Regions from separate parts of the Homo sapiens genome. Here region 1 is linked to region 2. Evidence: fine-mapped expression QTL. Tissue or cell type: monocytes after LPS. Region 2 holds a variant in brackets; the other region holds the start of a gene. All regions are shown on one strand. Distances are from middle to middle.

Region 1 (16,169 bases), 80 kb after region 2:
AGGTAAATCCTTCCCTCAAGCCTTAAGTGCCCCCAGGACAGCTTCATCTCTAGGGGGCATCAGTAGGTATGATGTTATCACCTTCCTTCTCTCCTCACCCTAACTGGATTTTCAAGACATGAAAACATTTGCTTTGGGAACACGGGTGTGCTGGGTGGCTGGCAAGAAGTGGAGGGAAGGTTGCAAGAAGGAAATGGAAAGAAGAGGGAGGAAAAACACACATGACAACTCTGTGCCCACGGCTCCCTTTCATTTGCATCCTGCTTGGAAATAAATGAACCCCCAAACACCAGTGAACTTTCTACTCTCACTCTCTTTAATTGAAACCCAGTACGGGAAATAGTAATGGATATTGTGCTCAAATTGAGAAAACGTGTCTGGGGCTACGAGGGGAGAGTTAGTTCAGCAGATTTGGAGGAGCTGATCTTTCTTTGGCCTGTCAACCTTCCTGACAGTGTGGTCATTTAATTTGCTATGCCCTCTTGCTTACAGATCTTCCTGTGCCCTCTGCCACATATGCTCCCCCAGGGCGAAACCCCACTCTGCCCCACAACCCTGCCACCTAACAACACTACCAATGATAAGGGAAAGAATGAAACAGTAGCAAACCACAGAAGTAAATTCTCCCATTTGAATGTCACCCTCCGTCTGCATGAGAGGACTGTTAAATTTCTCCTCCACCCTCTTAAAGTATTCTGTCACTTAGTCCCTCTACCCTACAAGTAAAATTTTGATACAAACCTCTGAGAGGCCACTTATACCCTTACCTGTCTCGACTGAAAATCTAGAAAGAGGATGTTGAAGAAAGAAAGGTGCTGGGTGGTCAAAAGTGCCTGGGGCAAAAGTCAGCTCTGGCCTGTGTCTTGGTGGTTCTGGGTCAGATAAAATGAGAGAAAAAATTCCTGGCCCCTTCCTTGTGAATTCATTTCTGCTGGCCTAATAATGCCCATTGCATTATCTTTTTTTTTAAAGTAATTAGGTAAAACACACACACACACACACACACACAAAGAGAAGGTTGAAGATATAGATTGACTTGAAATTAGGAAACCACAATTGGTTCCCTTTCCTGAGAGAGGAAAAAACCTTCACAGATGTAGAAAAAGCACTCTCCCCAGACACACACACATCCTTCAATCTTACCTCTCTCATTTCCCTTCTAACTTATCTAAATCACTGGCTGTGTACAAATTTGCCATTTTGCAGGGTGATCAGCTTTGAGGAAAGGTAGGTGCTAATAAGAATAATATGGAGGGCAAAATGTTTTCATTTTGCCTCTGCCAAAAACATATTTACATTAAGGAGGTATGATGAGCATGGATTAAGTGCATAGCGAATGATGCTCTAGAAACGGCATAAACCAACTGGCAACAAACTGAGCCTCTGTACTAAAAATATTGCTTCTCCAAGCTAGACAACTTTCAGTCTTCTCTCTCTGAAACATGCTACAGACGCTTGCACCAAATTGCCCAGATCAATAATTTAGAGGAATGTCAGAGGATAGGGGAAATGTGTGTTACAGGAAAGCTCCGTGCTGCTGGGGCAAGTAGGAAGCTGGGAGCTGGGGGCTATAGAGCTCCCCACCCTAGGTTCCTAGGTTAACTTGCAGCTCCTCACCCTAGGTTCCTGCTCTGGAAAAGATGGGGAGGTGGCCTTAGAGCTTAGGGAGCAAAGATGGGGTTCAACTCTGGAGAAAGGGGTGGCTTTGGAAATGCCAAGAGGAGAAGGTAAAACTGCCACTCTAGGCAAATGCACACAATGTTTTTCTATCTCTCAAGATACTTTATCTTTCTAGTCAAGGAAGAGAGGGGAAGGTGTTTGCTTCAGCCCCAGGAAGAGGGATCTCCAGGCTGTCATGGTTGCTGGGAAAGATGAGGGAGGGAAAGGGGGCAGAGTACGGAGGCACCAGGTCAGAAAGACAGGAGAGAATTCAGACAGGACCAAAACAGCCAGAAAAAATAGGATAAAGAAGGTAGAAAAAAAAAAAAAACAAAACAAAACATGAGAAGTTAAAGCCTGGGAAATAGATACAAGACAAGAAAGAGAAATAGAAACCAAGAACAAGATTGATGAAAGGAGGAGAAGAGAAAGTAGAAGGAAAAAGAATAAGAAAGATTCCAGACACGCATTCAAATAATCCTAAATGGGGATGAGCAGAAAGACAAGGAGACCAAAAGAAAAGGGGGGGGGGGGGTGGTGGGGAGGAGAAAGAAAGGAATGGAAAAAGAAACAAAAGGTGAATGTCCTGCCCTGTCTGTCTGGTCCAACCAAGAAGCTAGTGTCTGCCCTGGAGGGAGGAAAGGTGGGGGAGTCCAGCCTGTCTCCAAGGGACTGACAGGCAGCTTCTGGACCAGAGAGGAACTAAGCTCTCAAAGCAAGCTTTGGGGAGGAGGAAGGGATGGGGGTGCATGGTGAGTGGAGACTCCTGGAGGAAGAGCAAGCCTCCACTGGGTTCAGCACTGCCAGGGGGAGAGTCAGGGTTCAGGGTAGCATAGCAGTGCTAATGTATGTACCCCAGAGGGGTAGGGGGTGCTAGGGCAATTTGCAGGAGGACCACAAACAGTAAACTAGAGAGCTACTTCCCTGGGATCCGTGATAAGAAAATCACTTCCTCAGGTGGGAGAATTGAGCCCGAAAGAGAATGGGAGCCCTTGGGGGGCAGGCACCTGGTCAGTTTCAAAGCTCGTCAATATCAAAAGAGGCTGGGATCCTGAGATCAAATGGGCTGGGGCACTGGGCAGAAACGAGGAGCCATTGCCAAACTGCCAGGATGACCAGAACGCCCCTCCCCCAGGAAAAGTTCATATATGAACCCACCCCTGTATGAAACTTCTTAATTAGGTCTCATACCCCCGGTGAATCTTGGATGCCCTTCTGTCAACAGAATTCCCAATTTAGTGACACCTCGGACTGAAAAGAGCTCTGCGGCAAACGGGGGTGAAAGTTTAAGAGGGAATAAGCATATAATACTCCCTTGCCAGACCTCACACATGCTGAAGGGAATATTTACAGCAAACTGGCCAAAGCAAACGACCCCGCCTACCCACCATCCTTTTACCCTCCTCCCCGCCCTTTTTGTAAACTCCAGATAAACACCATTTGATCACAAAAGGGTCGGTTTGTCCCCTTTATAGTTTGAGGCAGGCAGTGCGGCAGGGAAAAGTGGCGTGGGCTAAGCTTCCGTCTCGGGCAAGGCCAGCTTCTTTGCTGGCACCGTGGCCTGGGCTAAGGACAGTTGATTTGGTTTTGTTTCCCCCGACCCCCACCCCGACCCCACCCCCACAAAGGAACATTATTTTCAGGGTCCTCCCCCCACCCAGCTTTAACACTCGCCTACTTGCACCCGCACTACTTTAAATGCTGCGGGCATTGCAGATAGAGAGGTTTTTCAGTTAATTTACTTTTTTAATTCTAGAGCTACAATTAAGTGAAAACTCTTTTTGCGAAAAGGTGGAGGAATATTTCAGAGACGCCAGAAATTATCTGGGTCTTTTCTGACCCGGAATCTGCCCTCTTTCTCCCTTCTCCTCCCCTTAAGTCACCCTTTTCTGGGACTCTGTTGAAGGGCAGGCTCTTTCAACGTCTCTAGTCTGTCTTTTGTTGAGTGTGAGACCGAAGGAAAGAGGATCGAGGGGTCTGCAGAGAGAAAAAGACCGCAGATAGCCGGCAGCTGGCGCCTAATGCCGGGGTCCGGGGAGCGCTGGCCTCGTGGGTTCTCCTGGAGGCCAGGCCCAGCACAAGCCTTCGGAACACGCTGGCCAATGTTTAACCCGAATGCAGTGGCCACCAGGCCGCTTTTGTTTGTTCGCAAATTAATCACCCAGCGCATGGCCGGCGCCAGAGTGGGTTTATCACCCACCGGGAGGGGGGCGCGCCGGGCACGCAGAGACAAAGAGGAGTTCGCACCTTCCCGCTTTTGATCCCAGAATTACGGCGGCCTCCCTGCCTAATACGAGCCTCCTGGGGCCGAGTCTGGGAGGTCAGTCATAATTGGCGGAAGTTTGCAGACCATTAGCAAGATGTCGACATTTTCGATTCGAACCCCGCAAACTTTCCTCTCGTTCTCTGCTTCGCGCGCTGGAGGTTGGTGTGGGAGAGGAGATGGGGGTCAGAAGTAGCGATCTGGGGTGATCACAGGGTTAAGTTAGAGCTATGGGCAAAAAATAGGCAATTGAGGGAGGAGGACAGTGTGAGGGGCAGAACTCCCTCTCAGTCCACCCGCGGAGCCAAAAACAAATCTAGACATTTTTAAGTAAAATCCGCAAGCTCCCCTCCCATTTCCAAAGCTGACAGCTGGCCAGAATGCAGAGGAATGTCTCTCTGCTGTGCGTGGGACGCTTGGGGGCACCGAGTGGGTGAGGAGGAGGTCGGTCACAGTGTGGTTGTAGAACTACTTTGCTTCCACCCCAAGTAGTGGGGCAGAGATTGGCCTGCGAGGGCAGGCAGGCAAAACCAGATCGCTGGGATTTGGGGCCGCTCTTGAAAGAGCAGCGAAGGGGCCCCAGGCCCCGGAGGCGAGCAGTCTGGGGGAGGGGGTGCACTTTTTTTTTCTATTTCTTTCTTTTCTTTTCTTTTTCTTTTTTTTGGGGCGGGGGTCCCCAGAGACTCATGAAACCCTGCAGTGACTTCCGTGTTCTGTGTAAGGCGGGAAATGGCCTGGCCTTTCGCACCCTTCAGGTGGGGAGGAGGGGATGCGGGAGGGGGTGTTATGAGCCAACACTCTGGGGCACCACCACCTCGTAATTTTCCCTCTCTCTCCTTTCTCTATTTTAACCACTGGCAGAGACAGAGAGGACGCCAGAGAAAGACAGACTGAAAGGGAAAGAAAGGGGCGAGATGGCGAGCCAGACGGAGTTCGCAGAACCACACTATTCTCTCTGGTGACTTCAGGGAATTCTCAACGCTGGCGCCAAGCTCTCTTAACCATGTGCGTCAAAAATGCGAGGCTGGAGAAGCCTGTCGCCTCAAAAGATCCTCCCCTATCTCAGCGTGGTTGGCCCACAAGAGCACTTCATTTTCACCCTTCCCTTGGTGCCACGTTGGGGTTTCGGGGTTGCTGGGGGTTGCGCGGGTGCACAAGGCAAAATGCGAGAGAGGCCTGTGCTGGCCTACAGAGACACACACATCCAAAGCCCTGAGTCTCTTAAACCCCTAAGCCCCCAGATCAGCCCTTTCTCCGTTCCCTTTCCATCGAAGAAGCTTTCATCTCAGGAAAGATAAAAGAACATTGTTTTCAAGATTTCCCTCCATCTAAGCAAGGATGGTCCAAGACATTGGCCCCCAGAATCAAGAACTGTGGGCTTAGGCGAATCCTCTGACCCCGACCGGGCGCTGCGGTAACAGAGTTGGTAATTCGGCGATTGGTAAGATCCGGTCGTTTCCCTCCCGTCCGCCTAAGAGGAGGCCCCCACCCTACCCGTACTAAAAACAGTCAACTCGCCTCTGAGGTGGGGGCGTTTCACGGTTTGTTTTACAAATTCACCCTCCCTCCCCGACTTCTGGCCAGATTAAGTCCCCGGGGTGGAGAAAGAACTGAGGCACCGAGAGATAAGTGCGATGCCTAGAGAAGATACCAGGCTGGCGCGCCTCCCCCAACCCAATCGCCCACCCCTTACCCTGTGCTGTGCACCCAGCCGGGCCTCGAGGTGAGGGCAGCGGCTTGGAGGGGACAGGCTCAGAACCCAGTCTCTCGCTGTGCTCGCTTTGTCCAGATCCTCCATTCTCTTCTCTACACCCACACCCACATCCAGGTGGAATATGGGGGCCCGCATGCAAATGAAAGACGAGATCCAAAAGGGCTGGTAAATGCATTTCATAAAAATCCCAAATCCATCTTCCCCAGGAGCTCAGGCAGGGCCAGCCGCGCAGGCTGTGTACGTGTTTGTGTGTACGTGTTTTTCGGTGTGTGTTTCAGTCCCAGTGTGTTGGCGCGTGTTCGAGTACAGATACACCGGGGGTGTTTGGGTACCCGCACATGGCTGCGGGTGGGGCGCAGTGGAGAGGAAGCCCACACATGCGTGTGCTGAGATATGGCCGCATCCTTGTGCTCCCCCAGCCCAGACGCAGGGGAGACCAGCACCGAGACACCCGAGCTCGGGAGCCCTTCAGCGGCGGCCGGGCGGAGCTTGGCTCCACGTGGGGCTGGAGAGCACGCAAGCCTGGAGTCTCGGCGCTCGCTTCTCGGCTGCCGCCGGCTTTTGTAGAACCGAGTGGCCGGATGGCAGCTCGCGGGGAGGCTCGGCCACCCGCCCGGCTCGCCCGGGGCGGGGAGAAGAAGGAGAGCTGGAGAGAGAACCGGCCGCGGCGGTCGGAGAGGCGAGCGGAGTGCAAGAGAGGCGAGCGCCCCTGCCCGGCGCCCGGGCGCGCTCTCCGCCTTCCCCGCCCGGCTCGCCTGCTCGCTGGCTCCCTCCCTCTCTCCCTCCCCCTTCCTCCTTGGCCCTGCCTCCTCCCTCGATCCCCGGCTGGATGACTGAGGCATTTCAGACGTGGGCTGAACCAGAGCGAGCGAGCGAGCTCAGGGGCTGCAGCGATCTCTCGATAAGCCACCTAGAGGCGACTCTGTGCGCGCGCGCTCCCCAGTGGCTCCCGCCCGCCCTCTGATCATGTTGACATATTCACAGGACAGGCAGTAGTACCGATGCGGCGCTGCGACGTTACAGTTTCCGACACCTTCTTTTTATAACTCAGCTCTATCCCCCAGCACTCGACCTGTGAAAACCACGCCTATGCAGCAACACAATTGGTCCGAAAGCGTCAAAGAGCCAATCAAGAGGCCTCCGGCTCCCCGCAGCCCACAGCGCAGCCCGACCTTCTAGAGCCGCCGAGCAGACGCCCGGTGAATTCTAGAGGCGGCGGAGGGTGGCGAGGAGCTCTCGCTTTCTCTCGCTCCCTCCCTCTCCGACTCCGTCTCTCTCTCTCTCTCTCTCTCTCCCCTCCCTCTCTTTCCCTCTGTTCCATTTTTTCCCCCTCTAAATCCTCCCTGCCCTGCGCGCCTGGACACAGATTTAGGAAGCGAATTCGCTCACGTTTTAGGACAAGGAAGAGAGAGAGGCACGGGAGAAGAGCCCAGCAAGATTTGGATTGAAACCGAGACACCCTCCGGAGGCTCGGAGCAGAGGAAGGAGGAGGAGGGCGGCGAACGGAAGCCAGTTTGCAATTCAAGTTTTGATAGCGCTGGTAGAAGGGGGTTTAAATCAGATTTTTTTTTTTTTAAAGGAGAGAGACTTTTTCCGCTCTCTCGCTCCCTGTTAAAGCCGGGTCTAGCACAGCTGCAGACGCCACCAGCGAGAAAGAGGGAGAGGAAGACAGATAGGGGGCGGGGGAAGAAGAAAAAGAAAGGTAAAAAGTCTTCTAGGAGAACCTTTCACATTTGCAACAAAAGACCTAGGGGCTGGAGAGAGATTCCTGGGACGCAGGGCTGGAGTGTCTATTTCGAGCTCAGCGGCAGGGCTCGGGCGCGAGTCGAGACCCTGCTCGCTCCTCTCGCTTCTGAAACCGACGTTCAGGAGCGGCTTTTTAAAAACGCAAGGCACAAGGACGGTCACCCGCGCGACTATGTTTGCTGATTTTTCGCCTTGCCCTCTTTAAAAGCGGCCTCCCATTCTCCAAAAGACACTTCCCCTCCTCCCTTTGAAGTGCATTAGTTGTGATTTCTGCCTCCTTTTCTTTTTTCTTTCTTTTTTGTTTTGCTTTTTCCCCCCTTTTGAATTATGTGCTGCTGTTAAACAACAACAAAAAAACAACAAAACACAGCAGCTGCGGACTTGTCCCCGGCTGGAGCCCAGCGCCCCGCCTGGAGTGGATGAGCCTCTCCATGAGAGATCCGGTCATTCCTGGGACAAGCATGGCCTACCATCCGTTCCTACCTCACCGGGCGCCGGACTTCGCCATGAGCGCGGTGCTGGGTCACCAGCCGCCGTTCTTCCCCGCGCTGACGCTGCCTCCCAACGGCGCGGCGGCGCTCTCGCTGCCGGGCGCCCTGGCCAAGCCGATCATGGATCAATTGGTGGGGGCGGCCGAGACCGGCATCCCGTTCTCCTCCCTGGGGCCCCAGGCGCATCTGAGGCCTTTGAAGACCATGGAGCCCGAAGAAGAGGTGGAGGACGACCCCAAGGTGCACCTGGAGGCTAAAGAACTTTGGGATCAGTTTCACAAGCGGGGCACCGAGATGGTCATTACCAAGTCGGGAAGGTAAGCAGTGGGGGCCTCCTCCCCTAAGCTGTTGGAGAGTTTTTTCCTCCCTTTATTTCTCTGCTCCCAGAACAGTCGGTTGGTCGGTTATTACGGCTTGGACGAAAAGTTAGTTCCCCTAGAAATGTATGCACAGACTTCCAGGCCCTGCCCCGGTGGCAGGAAATTTCAGCTTACCTGGGCATCTGCATGGGTCTTGCATTTGGTCTGCATCCTGGGTTCCCTCCCGAACAGACAGAATTTTTCAGTGGAGCACAGACATCCCTGCAGGGAGCAGGAAAGAAAAAAAAAAAAGGCACTCTACTGCAAGAAACTCACTCTTCAAACCCTCCTGGAACATCCTTATTTCTTTGTTGATGTTGTGTTGTCTGTTTTATTTTGTTCTCAGAGAGAAAAACTTAAAGCCCTTTCCTTTTGTGTGGGTATTGGGAGGCCTGACACCATTCCCCGGCCCTTTCTGCCCTCCAGTCTAGCCTCTGGGTCTAAAGGGGCCTGCTGCTGCCCTGGTCAGAGAGAAATCGAAGGGCATTTTGGTTTGTTTGCCCACACTACTTCACGTGTCTGTAACCCAAGGGCGAGTTCAGCAGGCAATTTTGCATAATTTAAGATTATGTTTGCAGACTTAAGGAGCCAGTGAGGAGACACACACCTTTTTTTTAATGTGTGAATATTATCAACCATATTTTACATAATGTTTAAAGGTCCTTGCCTGACCAAAACCTGCCTGGAAGAGAAGATCCTGTAATAGTCATTTAAAATCACTGATTTTTTTTTTGTAATAGCATTGAAGCCTGTAAAGGCATAAAGTTGATACAAAAATAAAATCCCCTTCATGATATCTTAAGCGTTCTGTCTCCTTCCAAGCTAAATGAGGCCAAAGTTTGGCATAAAATCCTCCTCAAACTCACAAGACATTTAGTCAGTTTTCCAGCAAAGTGCTTCCTTGCTTCCTTTTAAGTCAAGACTACAGAATGCCAACCCTTCTGTGAAATTAACAGCAATGTGGTGGCACAGTCTTGCGGTTTTGGACTGGCCTAAGAAGTGGGGGAATGTGTTAGCAGCTCCACGGGCAGATCGGTTATCAGGCCCAGGAGTGCACCGAAGTCTGCAAAATTCGTTCTGGGAACTCACTGAAGTCCAGTTTCACTTCGCCCACAGCGGGATTGCTATTCTGCAGCAGGGAGGGGTGCAACTTGACGTTCATTTCCTTGATAAGTTTAACATTTTCTCATCAATGGGTGGTGGAAAATTCTAGTCTTAACTGACCGCGCTTTACAAAAATCTTACCCCAACCTGTTTAGATCTAGATACCCACAGAAAAAGACATGGGCAAGAATTTGCTCTCAGGAGGGCAATCTGTAAAGTCAAGCAAGGACAAAAAAAATATTGAAGAAATTGTTAGACAATGTAGAGAATTGCAGTGCCACAATGCATTTGTTTTGAACCTTGGGACGTCTAAATATGGCGAAACTGAGAATATTTAATACGTTAGTTGTGGAAGAAAACGATTTTGCAACCAGTTGCCTCACTCTGAAACATGTAAGCTTATCAGTCACAATATAAAGTCTTAGACTTGGTTTCAATATTATGTGATACATAGGAAATCAAACCCAAGATTACGGGTGGTTTATCTTTCTTTTTCTTTTCTATTCTTTCGTTTTATAGGCGAATGTTTCCTCCATTTAAAGTGAGATGTTCTGGGCTGGATAAAAAAGCCAAATACATTTTATTGATGGACATTATAGCTGCTGATGACTGTCGTTATAAATTTCACAATTCTCGGTGGATGGTGGCTGGTAAGGCCGACCCCGAAATGCCAAAGAGGATGTACATTCACCCGGACAGCCCCGCTACTGGGGAACAGTGGATGTCCAAAGTCGTCACTTTCCACAAACTGAAACTCACCAACAACATTTCAGACAAACATGGATTTGTAAGTTTCATTGCTCTCTTCAGTAAAATTTTCTCCTCCTTCACTCAGTCAAAGGCAGTGCTTCCCATTTCATGAGTTTCAGCCCAGACTTCTCCTTTGCTTCTCCCTAAGCATAGCAAACTTGTCCTCGTCTGGAAAAAGGATTCGGGGTGTTTCTCTCCAAATAATGGAAGGCCTGGCGTTCTAAAAGAAATGGGGCAAGAAAACTTACCGGCTTGTGTTCTATAGCAATTCCAGCTCTTTGGTAGATTCCTGACCTGAGAGTGAAGTTAAAAACCATTTTTTAAGAGCTAAAATCAATTTCAAGGCTATGTATTCCTAAAGGATTTGTTTTGTTTTAAAATATCATACTTCTGTTTTGAAACCAGTGATATTATTTTCTCAGGAGAGTTTACGTTTCGGAGCCTTGACTCTGTTGGTTAAATGGTGTGAATACATTTTTAAAAACTCGTTCTTTTACTAAAAAAAGAATTGGGCTTAGGTGGGAGTCCGGCTTACCCTAAATGAGGCTTAGATCTTCAGAAAAAAATGGTTTGTGTGTTGGGAGTGTATATATGGATTCAGTGACAGTGCTTAGAAACTTAGAAAACTTTCATTGCTTGTAGATATCAGGCAAAGGACCTTTTGCGCCTTTTCCTACCCCTCCCCAACATTTCAATAAAATAAACAGCGTGATAAGCAAGGAGTAAGCAGAAAGATTAGGCCCAGGAAGACGCGAATGGCGCGGAAATATCTTCAGCGGGCAGGAATTGCATTTGAAGCCCTTGATTTGATTAAGGCATAAATATTCCTCTCTAGAGTTCAGCCTTTCAGGGCTTTAAGTGGATTGGGCTCGTCAATTAGTGGGCGCTTAAAGTACTGAATCATTTTGTAAATTAAAATGCATGTTTTTCTCTATCTTTTAAGACTTTGGCCTTCCCAAGTGATCACGCTACGTGGCAGGGGAATTATAGTTTTGGTACTCAGGTAGGCTAGGGTTCAAGGTATGAATGATCCTTAGATGGTGAGGGTGGGGGGGGCCCTTTGGCAACTGAGGAGCAATTTGGATTCTCCAGAAGATAACATCTGTGGAGCGAAACGTACCCAGGGGGTACTCCAAGGAGGTGGGCTCGGTACAAGCGTGGTACCCTGCGGTGGGGAAGATTTCAGCCTGGCAGGGGTCCTAAGATCCCGTTTGTTCTGCTAAATCCTTGTTTTATGTATGTCTCCTCTTCCCTGCCCCTGCAGACTATATTGAACTCCATGCACAAATACCAGCCCCGGTTCCACATTGTAAGAGCCAATGACATCTTGAAACTCCCTTATAGTACATTTCGGACATACTTGTTCCCCGAAACTGAATTCATCGCTGTGACTGCATACCAGAATGATAAGGTAAACTCAAGGGGCTTTCCTTTTTAATGGTGATATTTTGCCTTCCCCTTAAAAGCTGCTTTAAGTCAGGATGAGAAAGTTACAAGAGAGTGGAGACGAGAGTCTTGAGTTGTCTTTTGTGATTTGTGGAGCATTTGGGGGGAAAGGACAATGACACCTCGAGGAGACAGAAAAACACCTTGACTAGGTAGGAACAATGCTGAGCAAAAAAACGCCATACTAATTTTGCCACAGAGAAACTCCTAGAACTGCTGTCATTGATGCCACCCACTCCTCCCCCCCTCTTGGGCTTTGTCCTGTCTGTTTTAAGGTTCATCTTCTTCCCCTTGGGGAAGAAGGATCAAGAAGTCACATTCAAAAGGAACCAGCTAAAAATTTAAGGCAAAAGCCATTTGGGATCCTGGGAGGAGAATCCTAGTAGAGACCAGCTTTTCTCCCCTAGCCAGAAATCCTGAGTAGCTGGTCTGGTTTTTATTACCTTTTATGCTGCTGTGTTATGATGTGTGTGTGTGTGTGCATGTGTGTGCATGCATGCGTGTGGTTGGAAAAACCTACCCTGATCACAGGGTCATATTAATCGAGTTGTCTGAGGCTTTTGAGTTGGGGTGGCCAAAGTCACCACTTCATTTGAATTCCCCCCCTCCCCCAGGCCTGAATCTGGAGGTTAGAAGGATCCCCAAAAGGGAAAGCACCTGATATCTAGAGCTATGGTGGCCTGAAGGTCATGGGCACAGAAAAAGTGACCCTTACTGCTGATTCACCAGTTCCCAGATTGGCTGTTAGCAGTTATGGGGTGGGAGGAGGGACTGAAGACCCCTGCTCTGCAATCCTGGACTTCAAAGAGAGTCCATTTTACCTGACAACACACTTCATTTTGAACTCACTGTCATTGTCACTGTCCTTGGGTCCTCTGTGGACTTCATGATGGGGATGTTCCAGCTAAATTTCTTTAGTGTGAATACCAAAACATGATCTTCTCTCCCTGTGAAACCTGAAGTCTTCAATAGAGCAATTTATTCCAAGAACATGAATCCAACCAAGGGTCCCCCTTTCCACCTCTGAGTAACTCTGTGTATATAACTTCTTCTTCCCACCAAGGGGAAGGGATTTGAAAGATTACACACTATAGCATTTTTCTCAAAGTGCAAAATGCATGTGCCCTCTAGACCCAGAATCCTGTGAAATGAAGTTGTTAATGTAATAATAAAATGTAGCATTTTTGATCAGACAAAAAGGCCATGGGCCTTCTCCACCTAATGGCCATGGCAGAGCATATAAATGAAAACAGATGTTTCCAGTGGTCATTCAGTACTGTAACTGTCAATATTGTAATTTCCTCAAACCACCCCCCAGGCAAAGAAAAAAAAAATTAAACTCACTCCCGCACTCACTCCCGCACAAGGGTAGTGAAACCCCATAAATCATTTATTGGATTCATGGAAAAGGAGTGTGTGTGTGTGTGTGTGTGTGTGTGTGTGTGTGTGAAGGGAGTATGCTATAATTTATGATTAATTGCACTGTATAAAAATCAAAATGAAAGCATAATTTTAAGATCTACAGGTTTTCCCTCTTGATGACTTTGACAACACTTCCATGTCTAAACCCAAACTGTTGGCTGCCCAAAGAAAAGAATTTCTTTGAATAATTTCATCCCCAAATCCCTGGTTTGGCCTCATATAGGAGATACAAGCCCTGCCACAGTTTCCTTATTATCTCCTTTCCCTGGCATATCTATATGACTTCTGTTGGCAGTCACATCTCTAGACTTGTTGAGTTGGGAAAAACACCCTCAAAACATTCTAGAAAATGAGAACAATGTCTCTGTCTTGCTTGTGTCTCTTCCAATAGATAACCCAGTTAAAAATAGACAACAACCCTTTTGCAAAAGGTTTCCGGGACACTGGAAATGGCCGAAGAGAAAAAAGGTGAGTTGAAACAATTATTTATTAGATAGTTTAGAAAAATCCCTTTTTTTAGGATCCAACTCTGAAGTGTTAGAAGTGAGATGCAGGCACTTATCCTAAGAGCGGGTGGAAATCATTCACTTTCCCCACTGCTACATGCTTGCCGCTATCAGTATACCCAGGACAAGTACTTTTCCTACCTCCTTACCTTTAAGGAAATTAACTAGGCTACACCATACTTATCTCTGGAAGAGAAGCATCAGGGATAATAGATTATACAGGGATGCCTATTAATTCCTAATTAATTTAAGTTCATCCTAGGCAGGTCCCAGAAAGAACCATGCCATTGAGAAAATACTTGGGAATTTTTGCAATCCTGTCTTCCAAATACCATCAGACAGAGCTGGGGACTTCGGAAAGATGTATGGCTCTCTCCCTCCTTCGTGGGGACATGTATCATTTTGCATTACGTAGACAGCTGGAGAGTATATGAAAGAGGGTCTCCCCTCCCCCACCCCCTTTCAAAGAATTTCTAAAATCCAGAAAATCACCCCCAAATTTTTAACCTATCCCCTTGGGGCGGGCATTAAAAAATAATTGCTAACAGCTAAATATATTTTTATTCCAATTAATTTGTTAGTAAAACGATTACAGTAAAGTGCAGCATGAAATAACCACTTCCTCCCAATCTTAGCCACCATCCAAAATTTGGGTATGCTGGGGACAGACAGCGTTGTGTTTGCAGGATTGGACACCCGGTTCTCCCTATATAAGGCTGGCAGTCCAGCTGTCTCTGACTAGATCCAGCCTCTTCTCCTGCTTTTAAATAAAATTTCACAGCCCAAGCAAATGCCTTTTCCTAATGAAACCCCATCTTGAATAAATGCAACTGAAGCCTCCTTCCTTTCTCCCTAACCCTCTGCCACACTCTTCAGCCCAGTTAGAGGGTCAAGGACAAAGCTTGGGTCTATGTGGCTGCCCTGGGGCAAGCAGATTTCAGTGAATTAGCGTTGTCCCTGGGCAGCAGGCAGGGTGTGAGGTATGTGTGTGCCGCTTTGGAAAGGGTAAGGGAAACAAAGAGGGGAAATGTATGTTACATTCTGTAACCTGGGTGTGGGCTTCTGCCACAGAAAACAGCTCACCCTGCAGTCCATGAGGGTGTTTGATGAAAGACACAAAAAGGAGAATGGGACCTCTGATGAGTCCTCCAGTGAACAAGCAGCTTTCAACTGCTTCGCCCAGGCTTCTTCTCCAGCCGCCTCCACTGTAGGGACATCGAACCTCAAAGGTAAACCATGTCACCTTTGTGATCACTGGACTCCAGTCCCTCGTGGCCTGGAAGAGTTGAAGGGGGATGGGGCACCAACCAGGGCACTTGCCCTTTAAAAGCTAGAAGCCTTCTAAACATCCTTAAACAGAAGCCAGAGTTCAAAAAGGGCTATCAGGTGTGTCTCCCCTTCCCCGCTAAGGCAGTAGAAGGAGAGCACAGAGGCCTTTCTCCCAGATCCTTATTTGGCTGGTGGGGAGGGGAGGTGGGTGTCTGTTTGCATACTACCTCTTGGCAAGCAGCTTTGAAAACTTGCTTGAAGCGCTTCTCTCTTTTCTCTCTGTCTCTGTTTCTTTCTCCTCCCATTCTCTCCAACCAACAGAGGCTCCAACTGCTGACTTTTCACTGTCTTTGAACTCTAGGTTACAATGTGTTGGACTGGGTGGGGGGGAAGCAAGGGACTCTGCCACCTGGAACCGAGAAGGTGGCCTAGAAAACATCCAGCTATAAAGCAACAATTGACCTGGGAGAGGAGGTGGAGCACTGGGGATCTGCGGTGGGGGTAGAGCTGGGGGAGGTGGGTGAGGAGTGGACAAGATGGCTCAAATCCCCCCTCAGTTACCTGTGTTTAAAGAGCAAGCAGTATTTATTTGGAAAGACACACACACACACACACACACACACACACACACACACACACTCTCAACGGGAAGAAACCTGTTTTTTAGTGAAATAAAATGCAAGTCCTTTATGTCTTCAATCCATTTAAGCTTTAAACATAAAATAGGATCCCTTTTTCTTTTCTTCTGGTGGAACACCCACAGAGGGTGTGGTAAAAGCGAAAAAAGAATCTATGATCGTCCCCGGGCTGTGAGCCATCTGTCCGACACTCATCTCTCTCTGCAGGGACTGGGGCAAATACAAACGGTTCAACTGAGTACTGGTGTTGAAGGACAGGTGTCCGTTCTGCCATTATCAATTCAGATGTCAGGGTTCTTGCCAAACAAATCCTTCCAGAGTAATTCACAAATTTGTGGAAGGTGCTGCTCTCTGTCATTCACTGATTTTTTGATAGTAATTAGAATATGTTCCAGCTGTGAGTTTTAATGTTACTTTTTACTTTTAAAAAGTTAATTTGCAATCGAATGGGGAGATGCATGTGAAATCTGCCACTGTAGGAACTCAAAAAAAGAAGTAAAATTCATTAAAATAAGAAGAGCTACTGATTAGGGGATTGTCCATCTAAGGGAAAGTTTAAACTCTGGGTAAATACTTTAAATTCATAATCGCTTATTGAATTTTCCAGCAATGTTGTTGGGCACGATTATCCCCATTTTGCAGATGACAACACTGAGGTGCAGAGAGGCTAAGGGGCTTTCCCCGGGATTACACAGCCACTAAGCCACGAGCTGGGATTCCAACTTGGGAACTGGAGTTCCGTTGGCTCATACTGGAGATAACGCCCTTCTGCCTTGGTTTTTTCCTTCGCCTGTGGTAGATT
Region 2 (16,169 bases):
AAAAAAATCAGCTTAGATACCACTTCCACCAGGAAGTCTTCCTTGCCTGCCCCTCAGGTGTAAGTCGGGTCCACCTACTCAGTACTCCAAGAACACTCTGTTATCATAGCACTCAGCACAGTGTGGTTTTGTTGCCTGTTAAGTTGTCTCTCTCCCCCAGATGGCAGTGGGTATGCACAGAGCTTCACACATTGTGTCTCGTATTTACCAAATGCCCTGAGCCATTTATCACAAGTACATGGAGAAAGCTAGGACTGAAAGCCATTGCTCACTGACTCCAGGGACTGTGTTCTGTCTACTGTTCCACACGGGTGTTGCTGGAAACACAAGAATCTGTCTAGACTAGCAGGCCCCAGAGGGGCTAGGCCCAAGTGTACAAGGGCTTGGAATGGCAAACACATGCTTCCACTTTCCAAACCCACATCCATGGCAGACATTACTAATGGACCACCACATTTCTTCTCATTGATCCCAGGCTTAACACAGGGCCCCAGCCAGTCTCCATCAGTTGACTCAAACTTACAAGTAAGGAGCCAGGCAGGGTGGTACATGCTTATAATCCCAACTAGCTACTTGGGAGGCTGAGGCAGGATGATCACTTGAGCCCAGGAGTTTGAGACCAGCCTGGGCAACAGAGTGAGACCCCGTCACTACAAAATTAAAAATTTTTTAAATTAGCCAGGCAAATTGTTGTTGTTTTTAAATTATAGACAGGGCCTCAGCTTGCACCTGACATGAAATCTGTTTACCATTGTTATCTATTGCCCAATGACCCTGTTTTGTGGACCAGAAAAAATGAAGCTCTGTCTTTCCCAATATCACGTGCAAGTTCATGTGAAAGCAGAGACAGGCCCTCTCCACTCCCAGTTTGGTGTAATTTCACCGCCCCTCCTGGCATCTGGAGACAAGCTTCTTACGCTGTGTGGTCAGCCTACCCTCAGGACATCTAGAGAAAGAAGCTTTCTTGTGAAACTGGGCCAGTAGACTCATAGAAGACTCTAAGGACAAGAACACCTTCTAGAATGACGCAGGGGACTTCCTTAAGTTTCCTGGAGGCAAGCCAGGCATGGAGGCTCATGCCTGTAATCCCCAAACTTTGAGAGGCTGAGGTGAGAGGATCATCTGAGGTTAGGAGGTTGAGACCAGCCTTGGCAACATAGCAAGACCCCATCCTACAAAAAATAAAAAATTAGTCAAAAGTGGTGGGTGACCCTGTAGTTCCAGCTACTCAAGAGGCTGGGATGGGAAGGTCACTTGAGCCCGGGAGGTGGAGAGACCCTGAATCTAAAAATAAATGAATAAATCAATAAATACAATTTTAAAATTAAAATTGGCTAGGTATGGTGTCTCACTCCTATAATCCCAGCACTTTGGGAGGCCAAGGCGGGAGGGTACCTGAGGTCAGGAGTTCAAGACCAGCCTGGCCAATATGGTAAAACCCTGTCTCTACTAAAAATACAAAAATTAGCTGGGTGTGGTGGCCCATGCCTGTGATCCCAGCTACTCAGGAGGCTGAGGCAAGAGAATCGCTTGAACCCAGGAGGCGGAGGCTACAATGAGCCGAAATCATGCCACTGCACTCCAGCCTGGGCAACAGAGTGAGACCCTGTCTCAAAAAAAAAAAATCCTTTAAACTAAGAAACCAACATTGGTTCATTACTCTGAACTAAACTCTAGATCTTCTTCAGATTTCATCCATTTTTCTGGCCCAGGATCCCATCCGGAGTACTATGTTGCCTTGAGCACATTCTCTTTTTGATAAATACAGTTCCTGGATTACTCCCTTTCTCCTGCCATGTAATTCCTTCTCTCACTCAGAAATGAATTTGTCTGTTGTTTTGCTTTGGTCTGGCTCATCCCCTCTCCCCCATTTTACAAATTATAGTTTAGGGAAAAGTTTCACCTGATTCTATCTAATATTGTCAGCAGCCCTTGTCCACCACATTCATTTTTCCTCTTTCTGTTTTAAAATCTAGTTCACATCATCAAAATGGCCACTAGCACTTCCTGAAAAACTTGGCAACACATTTTACTGTATTTCAAAAAAAAAAAAAAGTTCTGCTTTTTTTTCCCCCGTCCCCCCACCCCAAACTTCGTTTGTTCTTTTATGACTAAGGATATTTATCTCCTGCTTGCTTTAGAAGTTTATGAGCTGCTTTTGCTTTGAATTCCAGGCCAAGGTCAGTCCTCCTTTTGTCATGATGTCACGGCCTGTTGCCGTGGTTACCCCTGTGACATCATCAGACCAATCTGGGGGCCTGCTGGGGCAGGGGGGAGAGGGGCTTTGAAACCGCTCCTTTCATCTGTCTTTGGTGAGGGCGGTGTTGCTGCTTTTTGTAAAAGTTTTTGAGAATGGCGAGACACTAAAGGGAAGAGTTAATAAGATTTACTACCCCCCAAAATGCCGCAGACCCCTAAAAGTCAGGCCACAATCAAAGGCTGCAGGCTTCTGAAGGGAAAAAGGCTAAAGGAATAAACGCATTTCCAAAAACCAGAACTCTGTATCTGTAAAAAGACCACCAGTATGCCACAAGGAGAAACACGCACGCCTGCACGCACACAGGCACACACACACACAATTGGCCCTCTCAACCAAATTGCCTCTAGATGGAATGTATTTCACGAGGTGTCCCTTGGTCTTTAATCTAATCTAATCTGTCTCTCCCTCAGCATAAAAGCAAAAGTAAAGAATCACAAACCAGGAATGCTTGGTTTGAAAGGCTTTTTAATAAAAGGAGAAAAGAAAAAGAACAAAAGCCGAGTGAACACTCAACAGACAGTTTTCATGTCACTAAAACAGCATCTTGAAAAATGTTAATCTTTTTTTTTTTCTTTTCCTTAGGGTCAGGGGAAGGGAAAAAAATGTGTTTTTATGGTGAACATGTGTCAAGAGGACTCCATCCCATAAACTCGGTGCCCACAATAAGTATATTTGTGTAGTAATTAATGTGAGATCAGAGACACAAGTTTTGCCAAAAGGCCATTGTCAGTATGGGGTACATTATTTAGGTCAAGAATCCAGTTTTCCAAATGTGGTATACATTGTGCTCGCTGTAATTAAGCGTTTTGTCATCTAACGACAAAGCGAGCAAGAGTGACTCCCAGACGGATTATACCTAAAACACAGTTTCCAAATGTTTCTTCTTGGCAAATCTTTTAAGGAAATTCTATGCAGAAGGAATGTCAAGACATCTGTAATTAGATCTGGGAGAAAAGGGTGGAAGGAAGATTACTGGGCTATTTTTTTTATTTTGTCTCTCAAAGAGACCCCCTGTAATTCCACGTCCTGGCTGTCAAGAGCCTTATCCATCACGGGTTCCTGGGTCATCTGTCTTTGCATTCACTTTCTTGCCGAGGTCTCCAGTAACACCCTTGCAATGCCAATTCTCCTCCAAGAAGTTTACTGCAAGCCGCTGTGAAGACAGAACGGACAGCGTCCAAAGTGCCTTGGGCCAGGCCCGTTCTTCGAACTCGGTAGATTTTGTTTCTGAAGGTTTCTGCTTTGTCATGCGCCTGGAGGTCTTATTAAGAAAGTAGAGGCCAGGCGCGGTGGCTCACGCCTGTAATCCCAGAACTTTGGGAGGCTGAGACGGGGGGATCATGATGTCAGGAAATCTAGACCATCCTGGCCAACATGGTGAAACCTCGTCTCTACTAAAAATACACAAATTAGCTGGGCGTGGTGGTGCGTGCCTGTAACCCCAGCTACTCGGGAGGCTGAGGCAGGAGAATCAATTGAACCAGGGAGTCGGAGGTTGCAGCGAGCCAAGATCACACCACTGCACTCCAGCCTGGTGACAGAGGGAGACTCTGTCTCAAAAAAAAAAAAAAAAAAAAATGCCGGGCGCAGTGGCTCACGCCTGTAATCCCAGCACTTTGGGAGGCGGGCGGATCACGAGGTCAGGAGATCGAGACCATCTTGGCTAACAGGGTGAAACCCCGCCTCTACTAAAAATACAAAAAATTAGCTGGGGATGGTGGCGGGCGCCTGTAGTCCCTGCTACTAGGGAGGCTGAGGCAGGAGAATGGCTGAACCCAGGAGGCGGAGCTTGCGGTGAGCTGAGATCATGCCACTGCACTCCAGCCTGGGCAACAGAGCGAGAGTCTGTCTCAAAAAAAAAAAAGAAAAAGAAAAAGAAAAGAAAGCAGAATGGAGTGCAGTTTGTAGGTCCCAGGGCTGCAATTTGGAAGACATTCATATTGCAAGGGAAATTGAAGAGGGAGCTAAAAGGATCCTTCCAGCACTGTGCATTTCAACTTTTTGGAGGGGCCGCAGCAGTAGGGGGGTGCATATTGGGGTGCATAGCCCCATCTGGGTCTGATGTTGGATGTTGGTTTGCATCTGTTTCTAGTTTTGTATGTTGGTATGGGTCTGCTTGTGCATGAATATGCTCCTGTACGCCTGTGGGTCTTTTGCATGTGTTTGCAAGCGTGTGATGCCTCGCTGTGCATGGGTCTGGGGGGGGGGGGTGCTGTCTCTGAGCATATTGCTGTGTGTGTTTCAAAGGCCGCTATGTGCTTGCCACACGCTCGGGGGCATTTATAACTTTATGTATGTGCATGAAAGAGCAACTGGGAAATATACTGCATTCATTATACTTTATACTCCCTTTTCCAACCAACAGGCTATCTGCAGACCTCTCAGCTCCTCATCACCCAAATACGATCTTAGGGGGTTCACAAAATAAAACAGGTCATAAATCTCAAGACTGGCTAGAACCTGGGGAGTTTTAGACAGAGAGAGGAGGGGGAAGGGCGGCAGGAGGGAAGTGGGTAAGAAGGGGTATTTTGATGAGGAATCTCTGCCCCTTCATGAAGCACTTCTCCGTGATGCCAACTTAGAGGCAATTTGCTCTTAGTACTAGGTGGGATCAGTCCAAGCGTTTGGGGATTTCTCCTCTCACTCGACCCCCTCCTCTTCTCCGTGCTAACAGCCAAGAACAGATGTGCCCCACTTTAATAATGCTGACCAGCTGGGGAGGCTGCAGCAAATGTCCACAGTTTTTTCCCCAAATGCTGATGTCTAAGGAGGCCTCTGGGATGAAGACAGGGGTCTCTCAGGCACATTTTGGGATCCTCCTGCTTCCAGAACCTTCCTCAGGTTTCCCTGAAAGAGGACACTAAAGAAAATATGGAATGCCTATAGTCTGTGCTTTTGGTATCCATGTGGCTGCATTGGTGTCCATTATGACCCAAGATGCTACAAGTGTAATATTCTGGGGTCCTCTGGACTGAGATGGGACCAGCATGCGTGAATAGGATTCAGGACAGAGCCGCGAAGCCACGCTTTCCATTAATTAATTAATTAATTAATTTTTAAAGGCAGGATCTTGCTTGTTGCCCAGGCTGGAGTGCAGTGGCACGATCATAGCTCACTGCAGCCTTGAACTCCTGGGCTCAAGTGATTCTCCCACCTCAGCTTCCTGAGTAGCTAGGACTACAGATGCACTCCACCATACTTGGCTAATTTTTTTTTTTTAAGTAGAGACGGAGGTCTCACTATGTTGCCCAGGCTGGTCTCAAACTACTAGGCTCAAGCCATCTTTCTGCCTCGGCCTCTCAGTGCTGGGATTACACATGTGAGCTACTGGGCTGACTCACTTTCCCTTTATTTTTATTTTTATTTTTTTTTAATAGAGAGACAGGGTCTCATCTCACTATGTTGCCCAAGCTGGTCTCGAATTTCTGAGCTGGAGTTCTCCCACCTCAGCCTCCCAAAGTGCTAGGATTACAGGCATGAGCCACCACACCCAGCCCCATTTTCCTTTTAAATGGCTGAAAAGAGGCAAGCTCTGATTGTCGCCCACGTAGATTATTTTTTCCCCTCCAGAAGATGAAAAGGGCCATTTGTTTGTAGAAGTCTCAACCTGGCATATTGGTCCATTTCATGTGTCAGTTTGCAGTTTTCTCTCCTCTGAAGGGCTGCTTGGGGAACACAAAGGCAGGAAATTCGATTCTACACAGGCCCCGTGACATCTCTGTTTGAGGGTGTGTGTGTGTGTGAGTGAGTGTGTGTTTGTATGGCGGCTGACAACGTGTTCTCTTCAATCAGATCATTGCTTCATGGTCTTATTGTCCCTGCAGCTTTAGAAACAGCTGGGGGGATTCTGTAAGAATCATTTGAATAAAACTTCTCATAAACTGTCCACTACAGAGTTTGGGAAGATAAACCTGTACTGTTAGGATTTTTTTTTTTTAAGACAGTCTGTGCTGATTTTCCAAATGTATTTCTTTAATATATGTGCTCCTCTCAGCACATATATTCCTTTTTTTTTTTTTTTTTTTTTTTTTTTTTTTGTAGAGACAGAGTCTCGCTCTGTCACCCAGGCTGGAGTGCAGTGGTGAGATCTCGACTCACTGCAACGCCTGCCTACCGAGTTCAAACAATTCTCCTGCCTCAGCCTCCCAAGTAGTTGGGAACACAGACATGCACCACCACACCTGGCTAGTTTTTTTGTATTTTTAGTAGAGAGGGGGATTTGCCATGTTGGTCAGGCTGGTCTCAAACTCCTAACCTCAAGAGATCCGCCCGCCTTGGCCTCCAAAAGTGCTAGAATTACAGGTGTGAGCCACTGCGCTAGCTTCAGCACACATCTGCTTCTAATTCAGGTGCAACATACACAGAAAACTACACACATAACATATGCATACCTAGCATTCAGATTAAAAAGAAACAGACATCCCCAGAAGTCCCCACAGTGTCTCCTTCCAGTCAATATGCACTAGGATAAAGCAACCACTCTCCTGACATCTAACAGAATCGATTAGCTCTGCATATTTTTGTGCTTTTCATCAACAGAACCACACAACATCACACTTGAGTAGCTGGCTTCTTTCCTTCAAAATTAAGTGTGTGAGGCCCGGCATGGTGGCTCACACCTGTAATCCCAGCACTTTGGGAGGCTGAGGTGGGTGGATCACCTGAGGTCAGGAGTTCAAGACCAGCCCAGCCAACATGGTGAAACCCCATCTCGACTAAAAATATAAAAAAATTAGCCGGGTATGGTGGCAGGCACCTGTAATCCCAGCTACTTGGGAGGCTGAGGTAGAAGAATTGCTTGAACCCGGGAGGCAGAGGTTGCTGTGAGTCGAGATTGCCCCACTGTACTCCAGCCTGGGTGACAGAGCTAGACTGCCTCAAAAAAAAAAAAAAAAAAAAAAAAGTAAAAAATGGGCTGATTCAGTAGTATCTCGTTATTACCAAAAGTATCTCATCAATACTGAAAAAAAAAAATTAAGCACGTGAGATTCACCACATTGCTCTATGTATTTGTAGATCGATGACTTTTCAACTGGGATTCATTGTGTGCGTCAGGGGATGTTAGACAACGTCTGGAGACATTTTTGGTTGTCACAACTGGGGGTGCATCTAGTGGATGCAGACCAAAAATGCTGCACAACATCTTACAAGGCCCAGGACAGCCTCCCTCCCCGCCGCCCCCCGCCACACACAAATTACCCAGCCCCAAATTTTAATAATGCAGAGATAAAAAATTCCAGTTTGGATCCATCATTGTCCTGGCTGTGCTTTGATTCCTCTGAAACACCATTTTTAATACTTCCTGGATGCCTAGGCAGGCACAGTGGAGTTAGCCTGAACTTCAAGTTCAAAGCTTCAGCTCAGAGGCAAGTTTACTGACCTCTAGTTTTATCCCCGAGGTGGGGGCAGGGAGGGTGGAAGGGTATTGGGATTGGATGGGAAGATGGAAGGGAGCAAAGGAGGGTCTTTCCCTAATGGTTTCTTAATCTCGTCTGGTGATGAATTTGACCTTAGAAGGACGTTGCAAGCCACATCTGCCTCTCTGGCAAGCAGGGGAAGGAAATGACAGAA[A/C]AGTTCTTACAGAGCCACACCGATGTACACAGACATAAACAGACAACCGCACAAGTCCAAACAGACACCCCCCACAGCTCTGAACACACACATACACACGCACGCACACACGCACGCGCACACACACACACGCACGCACACACACACGCACGCACATACATACTCACCAGCCAACACCCGGCCACACAGCAGGCCCCAGAGACACACGCTAGAGGAGAAAAGAAACACCAACACTGTCCTTAAAGGGGCCTCTCTCCACATCCAGCTATTTAAAGAAATAGTTAAGCCGGCCAAGTTCAAGGAAACCCAGCCAGCGCAATGACCACGTCTGTCTTGTTCTGTCTTGTCGTATAACGCTTGGGCCTTGTCGTATAACACTTGGGCCTAAACTCAGGGTTTCTCCACCTCAGCACTCTTGATATTTCCAACTGGGTAATTCTTTGTTATAGGAGCCGGCCTGTGCATTGCAATATATTTAACAGTATCTTTGACCTCTACAAACTAGATGCACCCCAAGTTGTGTCAACCAAAATTGTCTCTAGATATTGCACAATGTCACCTGGGGACATCACCCCTAGTTGAGAACTACTGACCTAGCACTGCAGTGGGCTTATAGAAGCATCCTCCAAATGAATTTTTTTTTTTTTTTTTTTGACAGAGTCTTGCTCTGTTACCCAGGCTGGAGTGGAGTGGCACGATCATGGCTCACTGCAGTCTTGACCTCCCAGGCTCAAGCAATCCTCCCACCTCAGCCTCCCTAGTGGCTAGGACCACAGGCCTGTGACGCCACGCCTGGCTAATTTTTTAAAGTTTTTGTAGAATTGGGGTCTCACTATGTTGCCCAGGCTGGTCTTGAACTCCTGGGGCCAAGGAATTCATCCTCCTCAGCCTCCCAAAGTGCTGGGATTACAAATGTGAGCCACCATCCGTAATCCCAGCCCCACATGAAATATGTGTTGATTCAATCAATGAGCCACTCTCATTCCTTCTTGAAAATAAATGGGGACCAGCTACAGTGGCTCACGCCTTTGGGAGCACTTTGGGAGGCCGAGGCAGGTGGATCACCTGAGCCCAGGAGTTCGAGAACAGCCTGGCTAACGTGGTGAAACCCTGTCTCTACTAAAATACAAAAATTAGCCAGGCATGGGGGCGGATGCCTGTAATCCCAGCTACTCAGGAGGCTGAGGCAGGAGAATCGCTTGAACCCAGGAGGTGGAGGTTGCAGTGAGCCAAGATGGTGCCACTGCACTCCAGCCTGGGTGACAGAGCCAAACTCCATCTCAAAAAAAAAGAAATGGGCTCCTAAGAAGAGTCAGCTGATCTCTCCTCTTCAGCATCGACATACATCAAGAGTTAAAAAGAAAACAAAGTCGGGCACGGTGGCTCACGCCTGTAATTCTAACACTTTGGGAGGCAGAGGCTGGCGGATCACTTGAGATCAGGAGTTTGAGACCAGACTGGCCAAAATGGTGAAACCCCATCTCTACTAAAAATACAAAAAAAATTGGGCAGAGTGGCACACGCCTGTAGTCCCAGCTATTCAGGAGGCTGAGATAGAAAAATTGCTTGAACTCAGGAGGCAGAGAGTGCATTGAGCCAAGATCATGCCATTGCACTCCAGCCTGGGCAACAAGAGTGAAACTCCATCTCAAAAAAAAAACAAAACAAAACAAAAACAAAAAAAACAAGGCCAGACGTGGTGGCTCACAGCCGTAATCCCAGCACTTTGGGAGTCTGAAGCGGGGAGATCACCTGAGGTCAGGAGTTCGAGACCAGCCTGACCAACATGGAGAAAACCCCGTCTCTACTAAAAACACACAAAAAATAGCCGAGCATGGTGGCGGGCACCTGTAATCCCAGCTACTCAGGAGGATAAGGCAGAAGAATCGCTTAAATCCAGGAGGTGGAGGTTGCGGTGAGCTGAGATCGCGCCGTTGCACTCCAGCCTGGGCAACAAGAACGAAACTCCATCTCAAAAAAAAAAAAAAAAAAAAAAAAAAAAAAAAAAATTGGAGATAGGTCCTAGGCTTCTTCCTCTACCTGGAATCCCAGCCTCTGAGACTAAGGCTTATGCTGGATTCTGCCTGGGTGGGGGCCATCTCTGCCATCAATGACGACTCTTGAAGAAGCAGCCCCCAGAGAGATGCCTACGCCACATGTGCTCTGTCATTTGATTGACGGACATGAATGCACTTTTCCGGACGCTGATTGGGTTTTAATTGTGTTTGGAACATTGTGCTCCCCACGCACCAGCTGAATTTGCTTCTGCATTCAGAAATGTTTTCACCTTCTCTTTTCTCTGGTGTGTCTGCCATGCTGCAGTTGGTGGCAGTGAGAAGGGCGATTGGGACCAGACAGTGCATCTGTGGAATTTTCCACACATTAGCCAAACCGGATCTGGAGCTTTCTTTGTTTTTACCCCTCTCCCCCGAGGACATATGAGTCTGGAAACAGGCTGGGAAGTGGGACTTCTGGCAGACTTAGCTGTAGGCTTAGGTGTCTACTGTCTGCATGTGGGAGGTAGGTCAGCCTTCTACCATCATCTCCAGCAACTGAAGGTCATACAGTCATTCAGCAAACATCCTCCAAATGACAGAGCATATCAGGCACTGAGGTTACAGAGATAATATACCTGTTTCTGGCTTTCACGTAGCAAGAGAAAGACTACAACAGCTCATTCAAGCATTTATTTTCAGGTAGTCTTCTGTACACTTTATAAATACTCACCCAATGAATCATAAAAATAACCCTATAAAATAGGTTTTGTTTTTTTTTTTTTCTTTTTTGTTGAGACAGAGTCTCACTCTATTACCCACTCTGGAGTACAGTGCTGCGATCTCGGCTCGCTGCAACCTCCACCTTGCGGGTTCAAGTGATTCTCCTGCCTCAGCCTTCCAAGTAGCTGGGACTACAGGCGAGCGCCACAATGCCCAGCTAATTTTTGTATTTTTTTGTAGAGACAGGATCTTACCATCTTGGCCAGGCTGCCCTCAAACTCCTGACCTCAAGTGATCCACCCGCCTCGCCCTCCCAAAGTGCTAGAATTACAGGCGTGAGTCACCACGCCCAGCTAGGAGTATTTTTTAACAGCTTTATTGAGAAATAGATATACAAAGAATGGGATATATTTATTTATTTTATTATTATTATTTTTTAAAATAGAGATAAGTTCTCACTATTTTGCCCAGGCTAGTCTTGAATTCCTGTGCTTAAATGATCCTCCTGTCTCGGCCTCCTAAAGTGCTAGGATTACAGGCGTGAGCTACTGCGCCTGTATATATCCAAAACTGGATATATTTAACGTGTGTAAGTTTGATGAGTTCAAATGTGTGTGGACACCCGTGCTACCACCATCACATTCAAAGTAATAGACATATCCAACACCTTCCTAAGTGTCCTGTGTGCTTTTGTTTTTGTTATTGTTTTTTGTTTGCTTTTCCTGTGATAAGAACATTTAACATGAGATCTACCCTCCTATCATATTTTGAAGTTCACAATACTGTATTAACTATAGCACAATGTTGTACAGAAGAGCTCTGGATCTTACTCATCTTGCATGACTGAAACTTTATATCCACTGAACAACACCTCTCCATTTTCCCCACCCCCAGCTCCTGGCAGCCACTTTGCTTGTTTATTTGTTTGTTTGTTTGTTTTTGTAAGATATAGGATCTCACTTTGTTGCCCAGGCTGGAGTGCAGTGGTGCAAACATGACTCACTGCAGCCCCAACCTCCTGGGTTCAAGCGTTCCTCCCACCTACGCCTCCCAAGTAGCTTAGGGACCACCAGTTAAATTTTTTTATTTTTTCTTTTTTGTAGAGATGGTCTCTCCCTGTGTTGCCCAGGCTGGTCTCAGGCTCCTGGGCTGAAGCGATCCTCCTGCCTTGGCCTCTCGAAGTGCTAGGATTACAGCTGTGAGCCACCACGCCTAGCCAAAAACTTCATTCTTTTTCTTCATCACCTTTTTATATTTTTTTCTGTATGATCAATGTTACTTTTTTTCCAGTTTTATTTGACAAACACTGGGAGAATAGGTTTCTCTGTTTCCATCCTGTCTAGACCATGGACTCATTTTGGTAAATCATGAAACAATCATCATGAATCTAGATCTGGCTCTAAGCTTCAGGTTCACAGCACACCCGACCACAGACTCTCTCCACATAGCTTTAGACCTCACCCTAGAGCACGGACTTTGCGGCTATAAGGCAGAGAAAACTCCCCTAAGACAAAACTGGAGCATGGGCCAGGCACGGTGGCTCACGCCTATAATTCCAGCACTTTGGGAGGCTGAGGCGGGAGGATCACTTGAGATTAGGAGTTCAAGACCAGCCTCACCAACGTGGTGAAACCCTATCTATACTAAAAAAAAAATCCACAAAATTAGCCGGGTGTGGTGGCACATGTCTGTAATCCCAGCTACTTGGGAGGCTGAGGCAGAAGAATTGTTTGAATCTGGGCGGTGGAGGTTGCAGTGAGTTGAGATCGCACCATTGCACTCCAGCCTGTGCAACAAGAGCGAAACTCTGCCTTAAAACAAACGAACAAACAAACAAAACAAAACAAAAAAACTGGAGCATGGTTCAACTCAAAAGCATCCCATGATTCTAGTTACAAAGCAGCGTTCTCAAGGGTGCAAGTTCTAATGCTACAGAATGTTTCTTCTTGGTAAACATTTCTGGAATCAAGATTTAACCACTGGCCACCGAAGAAATGCCCCCTGGAAGAATCTGACTCAGTCCGTCATTTGCCAGCCCTGCATCTATTATGACCTGTGCAATAACAAGGGTTTACAAAGATGCCCCACTGCCCTCCCTTTATTTGGGTTAAATGGACATAAATTGTGAAGGCCTCTCTGCTGGAGACTGGGAATTCACAGAAGGAATTCCTAGTCCCTGCACTGTGGAGCTCAGCACTGACTCCATTTGCAAATAAACAAGTCCTTCCAATTTTCTAGCACTTTACAAAGTAGGAAGCATCTGCCAGACAGAGGCAAGAGTTGAACAAGAAGCCAAGTCTAGCATGAAGGAGTCCAAATGTATCTCCTAAACCAAGAGGCCAGACCACACAATAAGAAAAGTTAGGGGCCGGGGGCAATGGCTCATGCCTGTAATTCCAGAACTTTGGGATGCTGAGGCAGGTGGATCTCCTGAGGTCAGGAGTTTGAGACCAGCCTGGCCAACATGGTGAAACCCTGTCCCTACTAAAAGTACAAAAATTATCCAGGTGTGGTGTCACACACCTGTAATCACAGCTACTCAGGTGGCTGAGGCATGAGAATCGCTTGAACCTAGGAGGCGGAGGTTGCAGTGAGCTGAGATCACACCATTGCACTCCAGCCTGGGTGACACAGTGAGATTCTGACTCAAAAAAAAAAAAAAAAAAAAAAAAGTTAGGAGCAGGGATTGGAGACATAAGAGACCGGTGAGATCTGGGAAGTTAGAGTCATAGGTGAAGGCAATGCCCAGAACAGGCCTAGCTGTAATGAGAATGTTTTGGATGCTATGCCTAAACCACTGCTTAGCTGATGCAACACCCAGTCCCAGCATCCCTCTCCCTTCCTGCCGCCTACCATGAGTCTAAAAAATGAAAGATTCACCTTCCTGGCCTCTTGGCAGTTACAGTTGACCATGTTGCAGAGTTTGAGCTAATAAAATAAAGTCTTGCTCCATCGCCCAGGCTGGAGTGCAGTGGTATGATCTCGGCTCACTGCAACCTCCACCTCCCGTGTTCAAGTGACCCTCCCATCTCAACCTCCTGAGTAGCTGGGATTACAGGCACTCGCCATCATACCCAGCTAATTTTTTGTATTTTTTGTTTTTTAAATACAGACGGGGTTTTGCCATGTTGGCCAGACTGGTCTTGAACTTCTGACCTCAAGTGATCTGCCCTCCTCAGCCTCCCAAAGCTCTGGGATTACAGACATGAGCCACCACACGTGGCCAAGTTTTGATTTCTTATAAAGGAGAAATGCTGAAGAGGAAAGCCTTCTTTCTGGTGCCACTCCTTTGTCTTAATGGCAGAGATGTGATGCCTGGAGCTTAGTCAGACATCATTGAACAAGAGGCAAGCATGAGAATAACAAGAGAAAATACTGAAGACGGTGGAAGTGTAATAGAGAAAACTGGGATGCTGGTGACCTCACAGGGCAGCAGCCCACCTCTGGACTACTCATCATGTGAGAAAGATAGGCCCCTCGTCATTTAAATGACTGTCAACTGGATTTTCTGCTACCAAAAGCCGGGTGTGGTGGCCCACGCCTGTAATCCCAGCATTTTGGGAGTCTGAAGCAGGAGGATCACTTGGGGTCAGGAGTTTGAGACCAGCCTGGCCAACATAGTGAAACCCTGTCTCTACTAAAAATATAAAAATTAGCCGGGCGTGGTGGCCCGTGCCTATAATCCCAGCTACTTGGGAGGCTGAGGCATGAGAATTGCTTGAACTCGGGAGGTGGAGGTTGCAGTGAGCAGAGATTGTGCCACTGCACTCCAGCCTGGGTGACAGAGCGAGACTCTGTCTCAAAAAAAACAATAACAAAAACAAAAACCTTCTGAGCGTATTTGAATTTCCATCTTGCTAAACAGAGTTGTGGGTGGGGTGGAGCACCTTTGTTGGATAGGCTGTGGGTAGGAAGCAAATGTCATCTGATAAAAGTGTTGGCAACTAAGCTGAGAGGTGTTTGTGAACAACTGGAAATAAGCTACCTATACAACTGCAGGGGGCGGGTATTAGCTAAAGCCTGGTGTGTCATAAAATTTCAATTCAATTTAATTTTATTTTTTTTGAGGCAGGGTCTCACTTTGTGCCTAGGCTGCAGTGCAGTGGCACGATCGTGGCTCACTGCAGCCTTGACCTCCTGGGCTCAAGGGATCTTCCTGCCTCGGCCTCCCAAGTAGCTGGAACTACAGGAGCACACCACCACACCCAGCTAACTTTTAAATTCTTTATAGAGACGAAGCTTGACCATGTTGTCCAGGCTGGTCTTGAATTCCTGGGCTCAAGCAATTTACCCACTTTGGCCTCCCAAATTAATTGCTGGGCCTATAGGCATGAGCCACTGAGCCTGGCCCATGATGCCTCCTGACAGTGGAACACAACTGAGCTCCTGGTGTAGAGACAGATTTATTGGCATGGAGAAGCACATTCTATATTGCTAAGCTTTGTAAAAGCAGGTTAGCAAACAATCTGAAAAGAGAGATCTAGAAAGGTGTTCACTGGGGCTGGGTGCGGTGGCTCATGCCTGTAATCCCTACACTTTGGGAGGCCGAGGCTGGCAGAGCACGAGGTCAGGAGATCGAGACCACCCTGACTAACATGGTGAAACCTCATCTCTACTAAAAATACAAAAAATTGGCCGGGCGTGATGACAGGTGCCTGTAGTCCCAGCTACTCGGGAGGCTGATCCAGGAGAATGGCGTGAACCCGGGAGGTGGAGCTTGCAGTGAGCCAAGATTGCGCCACTGCACTCCAGCCTGGGCAGCAGAGCGAGACTCCGTCTCAAAAAAAAAAAAAAAAAAAAAAGGTGTTCACTAGGAGGTCAATAGTGGGTACAATTTGGGTTTTTATTGTTCTTGTTATTTCTGTATTATTTAAATATATTAGAGGCTGGGCGTGGTGGCCCATGCCTGTAATCCCAGCACTTTGGGAGTCCAAGGTGGGTGGATCACTTGAGGTCAGGAGTTCGAGACCAGTCTGGCCAACATGGCGAAACCTTGTCTCAACCAAAAATACAAAAATAAATGGAGCATGGTGGCATGCACCTGTTAAGTCCCAGCTACTCAGGAGGCTGATGCAGGAGAATCACTTGAACTTGGGAGGCAGAGGTTGCAGTGAGCTGAGATCACACCACTGCACTCTAGCCTAGACAAGAGTGAGAGACTCCATCTCAAAATATACATATAAATAGATAGATAAATATACTATGTGTAGAATATATTATAATATTATATATGTATATGTATATGATTTACCTGATAAATAGAACCATTGACAGTATATGTGATATGTGCCTGGTACAGTGGCTCATACTTGTAATCCCAGCACTTTGGGAGGTTGAGGTGGGAGGATCTCTTGGGCTCAAGAGTTCAAGACCAGCCTGGGCAACAGTGAGCAAGACCCCATCTCTACCAAAAAAAAAAAAAAATTAATTAGCCAGGCATGGATATGCACACCTGTAGTCCCATAGTGGTGCACACCTGTAGTCAGGAGGCCAAGGTGGGAAGATCACTTGCGCCCAGGAGCTCAAGGTTACAGTGAGGTATGATCACACCACTGCACTCCAGCCTGGGTGACAGAGTGAGATCCCATCTAAAAGAACAAAAAAGCAAGCTGGACTTCGCG

Which allele goes with the higher level. Alleles are on the strand shown, and positions count from the first base shown. SD is a standard deviation of normalised expression in the study named.
As copies of A replace C in region 2, the expression in monocytes after LPS of the gene that starts at base 6,827 in region 1 goes down (large effect, 1.6 SD a copy in Fairfax 2014).

The links.
Region 1: it holds the start of TBX3, and the variant in region 2 is fine-mapped to the expression of TBX3 in monocytes after LPS (Fairfax 2014, PIP 0.95). The same link has a PIP of 0.9 or more in monocytes.

What each region holds. Positions count from the first base shown.
Region 1 is chr12:114,674,833-114,691,001 of GRCh38, reverse strand. It overlaps TBX3 (T-box transcription factor 3), which reads left to right and starts at 6,827. Exons shown (of 7, transcript NM_005996.4): 1 at 6,827-8,190; 2 at 9,856-10,123; 3 at 11,351-11,497; 4 at 13,346-13,422; 5 at 14,532-14,689; 6 at 16,167-16,169. The coding sequence starts at 7,802. It overlaps TBX3-AS1 (TBX3 antisense RNA 1), which reads right to left and starts at 8,710. Exons shown (of 2, transcript NR_187552.1): 1 at 8,368-8,710. RefSeq lists enhancers at 3,302-4,152, 3,507-4,413, 4,153-5,005, 14,769-15,270 and a promoter at 6,316-6,825.
Region 2 is chr12:114,754,528-114,770,696 of GRCh38, reverse strand. TBX3-AS1 (TBX3 antisense RNA 1) reads right to left here. Exons shown (of 2, transcript NR_187552.1): 2 at 2,709-3,413. Among named protein-coding and RNA genes, the nearest start is that of TBX3, 78 kb to the right of the region's middle. The variant A/C (reference allele first, on the strand shown) is at 7,832.